Homo sapiens: one gene and its partner. The protein of the gene in region 2 purifies or fractionates together with the protein of the main gene of each other region. This does not show direct contact. Each region holds a gene or a part of one and is shown on either strand. Other genes may lie near its edges.

Region 1 (3,824 bases), on a different chromosome or scaffold from region 2:
TAATCCTCCCCCGCGGCAGCTTTGTAGCTCATTTTTAATGACACCAACATCTTTACTGCAGAATCAATTTCATCCTGAGAGAGGAAATAAAAGGGATGGCTAAAAGTATTACTAATAGCTGATATGTGCTGAATGCCTATTCTGTGGCAGGCACTGTGTTAAATGCTTTTACACGTGTTACCTTAGTTAGTGTCACAACCCTACAAGGCAGGTATTGTTGTCACTGTCCTTTTCCAGCTCAAGAATCTGAGACTCAGAGAGGTAGAGGAGCTTACCCATAGAATCACAGCAAGTCATTGGCTCGAAAACACTTCATTTTTATCTGTTATTCTAGTGCTACCATGAACACTTTGGGACAGTAGCAGTGACACAATATACACTGTCATTTATGACAAAGTTCATATGCTAAAGATTTCTCAAACACCACTGATGCCAGAGAACGTGTGTGACAAGCTCCTTTAATTGAGATTCCTGGAGTTCTGCATTGGAACTAGTTTTTACATACCACACAGGTTGAGATGAATATTTACGTTAACTTAACCAATGATGCCACTAAGGATAGTAAGAGCAACTAAAACAGATAAAAGCAAGGACAAAAAATGTAGGCTCTCAGGTTATAAATTAAGGAGGGATTCACTGGGAAATAGTTACATCATCACATTTTGGAGTCTTATCAAACTATCTTGAAAAAAAAAAAACAAAGGTAAAATGTACCCTTGGGTAGTCTGGAAATGTATTAAAGACTCTTTTGCAGGAGTCCATAGTGGCCACCCCTGGAAGCCTGGTGTTTAGAAAAGCAGGCCTAATTAAGCTGATTAGTCATGCTATGCCCTAAAGCTCTATTCTGGTAATTGGCCTTGCTGGATTAGATCACAAACAAAGAATATACACAGCCCAATTTGCTTACCAAGGGAAATACAAACATTTCCACTTACAGTTTATACAGAACATTCTTTCTTTTAAATCTCCTTAAATTCCTTTTACCATATACAGAATGTTCTATAAACACCAACCTCCATTCAGAGATAACTATTCCATCAGATATAGCACTTGGGCCATAAAGGACTGTGATTCTGGAGTAATCTGTGTTTCAAACTACAAAATTATCTGAGACTCATCATTAAAATGAGCCAGATTTGTGGAATCAGTAACCCAATGGATACGATTCATAGATGAGATGTTTGCCCAGGTTAGATAGTTAAGTATGTTCCACCCATCTCATTTCTGTAGTACCTAGGCTCAGTACTTGCAAAAAATAACAGTTTAGTACGTATAATCTATCCAATTATCTATGGGAAGGCTTACCTTGCTTTGAAGTACACTGCAGTCAATATCACTTAATAACTAGCTTTGTTGACATTTCATACTCTATCTGGTCTAATTCTGCTTGTAACTAGGAGGCTCTGCGAAAGTCAAACATTTAACCAATGTCCCTGCTCAAGGACCATCTGCATTTTGGAATAGCACCAAAATAAGACAAGCAGGCTTACCTTGTCTATTTTCTTATAATCAGTCTTAATCAGTGTCTGAACCAGGACACTGAAACAGGATTCAAAAGCTGATGTTAGCTGGGTGCAGTGGCTCACACCTGTAATCCCAGCACTTTGGGAGGCCAAGGCGGGCGGATCGCCTGAGCTCATAAGTTCGAGACCACCCTAGGCAACATGGCAAAACCCTGTCTCTACCAAAAATAGAAAAAATTAGCCAGGTGTGGTGGCACACACCTGTGTTCCTAGCTCATCGGGAGGCTGAAGTCAGAGGATTGCTTGAGCCAGGGAGGCAGAGGTTGCAGTGAGCCGAGATTGCACCACTGCACTCCAACCTGGGTGATGAAGTGAGATCCCCACCCCACAAAAAACCCAGAACATCAGTTTTTTTTAGACAGGGTCTCACTTCAGTCTCCTGAGTAGCTGGGACTGCAGGTGTGTGCCACCATGTCTGGCTAATTTTTAAATTTTTTGTAGAGACAGGGTCTCACTATATTATCCAGGCTGGTCCCAAACTCTTGGCCTGAAGCGATCCTCCTGCCTTGGCCTCCTAAGTGCTGGGATTATAGGCATGAGCCACGGAGCCTCGCCAAAAGCTGATGTTCAGAAAAAAAAGCCAGACACAAGACTGTATTACATACAGTTCAAACCCAGGTAGAGCTACCCCTGGTGGGAGGAGTCATGGCAGAGGCTGAGGCGCGTGAGGGTGGCTTCTAGGTGCTCTCTGCTTGCTGTTGATTTGGGTGCTGGTTACACAGGTGTGGTCATTTTGTGAAAATTCAGTGAGGTGCCTGCTTGTGCTTATGATCAGCATGTTTTTCTATATGAATGGTATATTTTGATTTTAGAAGTTACTTAAACAAAAAGGAGAAGAAGAAAAAGGCTCTGCTCTCTTTCTTAATACCTAAGACCTAGCATTGCTTCTTTAGTCCTGCTCAAACTATTTCCCCTCACAGCCCTCAGATGCTGACTTATTTCCCCCTAGGAAACTTGCCGCTTTAATGAGCTGCTGCTACTGAAGGATGTGGATCTTATTCTTTAGATACACTGGAGCAGAAAAGACCTTCAAGGTCCATGGCCTAGATAAATGGCAGGAGAAGAAAGAGCTCAAGGTGCCCTCTCTTAGAACTGGCACTCCCAATGTGGCTCACACTATTTTGCTAAAAGTTAATTTTTAAAATTTCCAAAACATCAAGTGCTTCTACTACCAAGACATTTCAGGGTCAGATACAAATGTACTTCTGAATTTTTCACCACTTAACTCTGGTCTCATTGTGCAACCTCTGATGTCTTCAACGTGTGCCAGCCAATTGCATTAGTCAAATAATACACTTGGAAGAGTTATTATAAAATGTATTAAGTTGACTAAAATAATGAACATAACTGCAGTCACTAAGAATTACTAACTAAAAACATTTACTAAATGTTATTCAAATTTAATATTAAATGGACAAAAATACCACTGTCAACTTCCCAAAATGATGGGCTTACATAACCCCACTGGGTCTTTTATTTATTTTATAATTTTGTTTTAAAACAACTTGGTTTAATCGTTTGAGGCCTACCTGGTGAGTAAATCTCTTTCTGTAAAAAAGTAACTTTTTTTTGACATTACTTTCTTTCAGTACTATTTATTTCATTTAAAATATGAGCTGGGTGCAGTGGCTTGCATCTATAATTCCAGCAACTTGGCAGGCTAAGGTGGGAGCCCAGGAGTTTGAGGGTGCACTGAGCTAGGATTGCACCACTGCACTCCAACGTGGAAAGAGCGAGACCCTGTCTCAAAAAATACACACACACACACACACACACACACACACACACACACAAATAATGATTTAAATCAGGGTCCCAAATAGTCAAAGTAAACTACTGGGGAATGTGAGATGGTTGACACAATCTGGTGACAAGCAAGGTGTTTGAAAAGATAACAGATAACAGGAGTTAAAAGTGTCGGAAGTCGGGCCGGGCGTGGTGGCTCACACCTGTCATCCCAGTACTTTGGGAGGCTGAGGCGGGCGGATCACCTGAGATCAGGAGTTCAAGATTAGCCTGGCCAACATGGCAAGACCCCCTCTCTACTAAAAATACAAAAATTAGCCGGGTGTGGTGGCGGGCGCCTGCAGTCCCAGCTACTTACGAGGCCAGGGCAGGAGAATCGCTCGAACTCAGGAGGCAGAGGTTGTAGTGAGCCAAGACTGTGCCAGTGCACTCCAGCCTGGGCGACAGAGTGAGACTCAGCCTCAAAAAAAAAAAAAAAAAAAAAGTGATGGAAGTCATGGAGAAGCCGGAGTGGAGTCACCCCAGAAGGAAATGAAATGCTTATGTTCTAGTTAA
Region 2 (3,824 bases):
TAATGCCACCATAGCTGTCTAAATGACATAAAGTTAAGAAGAAAGCCATAATGTGTTTCTATAAGAAGTATATCAATTGGAGCGAATCACAGAAAAGATGTCATTTTTAAAAGCATTAGTAAGAATTAGAACAGAAAGAAGTGAGCTCCAAGAGGGAGAACTTTGGGAGGAAAAGGAGGATTTCATATGATAGTGAGATTGGAAAATATTAAATATATGATAAAGGCTTAAATAGTACAAAAAGAAAAACGGTAAGCAATTATTATTATTACTTTTATTGTTTTTTGAGACAGAGTCTTGCTCTGTCACCCAGGCTGGAGGGCAGTGGTGTGATCTTGGCTCACTGCAACCTCTGCCTCCCAGGTTCACGCGATTCTTCTGCCTCAGCCTCCCAAGTAGCTGGGACTGCAGGTGTGCACTACCATGCCCAGCTAATTTTTTTTTTGTATTTTTAGTAGAGATGAGGTTTCACTATTTTGGCCAGGCTTGTCTAGAACTCCTGACCTCAGGTGATCTGCCCGCCTCTGCTTCCCAAAGTGTTGGGATTACAGGTATAAGCCACTGCACCCAGCCCAGTAAGCAATTATTAACTTCAGAGTAAATAAAAATCCGTACATAAAAGGAAATATAACCACAGTATGCTATTCTTATGTAAACTGATTTTAAATTAACTAGAAAACAGCTATAATTATATTGAGAAGAAGAGAGAAGGAAGTTAGAGAGGTATATAAGAACTAAATTCTTATCTATCGTAGTAAGAAATCAATACTTTCTTTAAAAATGATGAAAAATAGCAGTATAAGCATATCATTTAAAAATATAGAGGCAACAAAGGGATGTAACCACATATCCGGCATATTTGCACTTTACTTTCTTATAATAAAATGCAATTTATTTGTATTTTGCTTTTGCTTTACTATAAACATAAAATAATTAAATAGTAATTGCCTATATGGTACTTGTCTCCTGCCTTTTTACCCCCATATCCATAATGCCTAATGCAGCCCTGAGTATCCAATATCTTTAACAATTCTTGTTGAGGGAGTGACCAATGTAAAAATGGAGTGAGGATGTCTTGTTTTTGAGTTACAGAATTTTGCACTGGAAGTAAATTTAGAGATTATTTAATCCAGTGCTTCCCCAGTGGGTGTTCCATGGAATACTGCTTCTTGTGATATCAATAGCATGCTGGCAAAAAGTGTTTGGGGCTTCAATAAATTCAGGAAATCCTATGTTAAACAAAATTAATCAGGTATCTCTAATATAGGACATCTTGGAGATTTTACTATGCTAATACACATTGGGAATCTCACACAAAGGCAATTTATTATGTAGTGTTTCTCAGACTCAATCATTTTATGAATTAAGAAGCCCCCTACTAATATCTCCAGTAATTAGCAGTTCCTGAAGCATTCTTTGGAAAATGCTGATCTAGTCTACTCCTCTCATTTTACAGATGGGGAAAGAGAGGCTCTCCAGAGCCTGTTCAGGTAAGGGTGGTAGGGGAACTGGTGTCTCTAGAAAGAAAGGGCCTCAGGATTCTGGAAAACTCTCCAGTGATTGAAAACTCTGGCCTGTGTATTCTGTTTTCCATTAGGCACCTGAGTTCTTTCAAACCAGGGAACAAATTCAGATACAAGCATTTCCTTTTATGATCTTTTTTTTCCTCTTTTTATTTTTCTTATTTTATTTTTATTACTATTACTTTTTGAGACAGGGTCTTGCTCTGTTGCCCAGGCTGGAGTACAGTGGTGTGATCTGTGCTCACTGCAACCTCCGCCTCCTGGGCTCAAGCAATCCTCCCACCACAGCCTTTCAAGTAGGTGGGACTACAGGCGTGCACCACCATGCCCAGCTAATTTTTGTCTTTTATGTAGAGAGGGAGTTTTGCCATGTTGCCCAGGCTGGTCTCGAACTCTTGAGCTCAAGCAATCCACCTGCCTTGGTCTCCCAAAGTGCTGGGATTACAGGCATGAGGCACCATGCCCAGCCTATTTCTTTCTTTTTTGTGAAATAGAGATGGGGGTCTCACTGTGTTGCCCAGGCTGGTCTCAAACTCCTAAGCTCAAGCAACCCTCTTGCCTCAGCCTCCCAAAGTGCTGGGATTACAGGCATGAGCCACCATGCCCGGCCTCCTTTGAAGATCTTTAAAGGTTTTCTGATCTTTAAAGAGCCTGGGAAATGAGCCCAAGTGTTGGCTGGAGCTCAAGCATAAAGCTCTAGAGCAGAAGCTAAAGAGAGTCTCAACAGACACAATGGACAGTGAATTTCAGTGACAAACTGGCCCCCAACTAAGCAATGGTAGTATAATAATAGACCACTCACACCTATACAGTGTTTTCCAATAAACAAATAAGTGCTTTTACAACGTTATCTCATTTGATTCTTACAACAATCTAGAGAGAAAAACAAGGATAGAATTATTATCCCCATTTTATGGAAGAGGAAACTGACTCTTAGTTAAATGCCTTGTCTGTGGTTATATAACATGTTAATGGCAGAGTTGAAAGGAGAACCTAAATTTCTTGTCTCTCAGGTTAAGGCTCTTCTCAATATATCACACAAACTGGGCAAAGATATTGAGTGAGTTTCAATTTAACTCTCCCATGAAGCATCCAAGCTGCTCCTATTGGCTAGCTTAAATAATTAATCAGGCCAGACATGGTGGCTCACACTAATCCCAGCACTTTGGGAGGCCAAGACAGGTGGATCGCTTGAGTTCAGGAGTTTGAGAACAGCCTGGGCAACATGGTGAAACCCCATCATTACAAAAAATACTAAATACAAAATACAAAAATTAGCCAAACGTGGTGGTGCATGTCTGTAGTCCCACCTACTCAGGAGGCTGAGGTGGCAGGATTGCTTGAGCAGGGGAGGCAGGGCAGAGGTTGCAGTAAGCCAAGATCATGCCGCTGCTCTCCAGGCTGGGCAACAGAGCAAGATCCTGTCTCCAAAAAAACAAAACAAAACAAAACAATACAAAAACAATAGATCAACTCTGAGTGCTCATAGATTGTGGCAGAAGCAACACCCCAATTATTGGAATTTCTAAGTCCTATTTGGATTCGGTATAGTAGTATCTCCTAGACAGCTAAATTCCTGGGAGAAGCAGTCTTAGAAATTTCCTGCTGGGGAGGCTGCATGGCCTAGTGGTACAAGCAAGGAGTCAGGCAGACTTGAATTTGAATCCTGGCTCTACCACTTATTCACTCTATGACCTTATTCACTACATAACCCTTCAATGCTTCATTTGTTCACCTATAAAATGAAACTAAGAATTCCTATTTTACAAACCTGTTGAGAGGCCAAGGTAAGGAATTAGAGGAATAATAGAGTGTCATGGTTGTGTGTAAGCTCTGTAATTATACTGCCTAGGTTTGAATCTCAGCCTTGCTTCTAGCTAGTTGTTTCACTTCAGATATGTCACTTGACTTCTCAGAATTTCAGTTTTCACCTATGTAAAATGAGGAAAACAAATAGTGCTTTCATAATTATTATAAGCATCAAAGGAGATAGTATTTGTTAAGCACTTAAGCATAGTTTCTGGCACACAGCTCTGTAAAAGATAATGATAATGGTAGTGGTAGTAGTGGTGGTGAAAAACCCAATACTATTTGTCTTCCAAAGCAAGAATGAGGAAGAAAGCTACTCAGTCTTGTTCTCTTCCATTTGCCAATGCCCTTTCTCCCTCTTCAACTACAAAGCCAAGAACACTAGACTAGAAGTCAGGACACTTGGCTTTGAATGTCAGCTCTGTCACATACTAGTTATGTGATCTGAAGGAAGTCATGTAGCTTCCTTGAGGTATTTTTCCTCACCTGAGG

What was found.
Region 1: the proteins of ACSS2 (region 2) and WARS1 fractionate together in Homo sapiens (co-fractionation; one large-scale study listed by BioGRID). This does not show direct contact.

Annotation. Positions count from the first base shown.
Region 1 is NC_000014.9:100,361,848-100,365,671, forward strand, and holds part of WARS1 (tryptophan--tRNA ligase, cytoplasmic), read right to left. Parts: intron 75-3,824; coding exon 1-74. UniProt on the Homo sapiens protein: Catalyzes the attachment of tryptophan to tRNA(Trp) in a two-step reaction: tryptophan is first activated by ATP to form Trp-AMP and then transferred to the acceptor end of the tRNA(Trp).
Region 2 is NC_000020.11:34,883,086-34,886,909, reverse strand, and holds part of ACSS2 (acetyl-coenzyme A synthetase, cytoplasmic), read right to left. Parts: intron 1-3,824. UniProt on the Homo sapiens protein: Catalyzes the synthesis of acetyl-CoA from short-chain fatty acids. Acetate is the preferred substrate. Can also utilize propionate with a much lower affinity.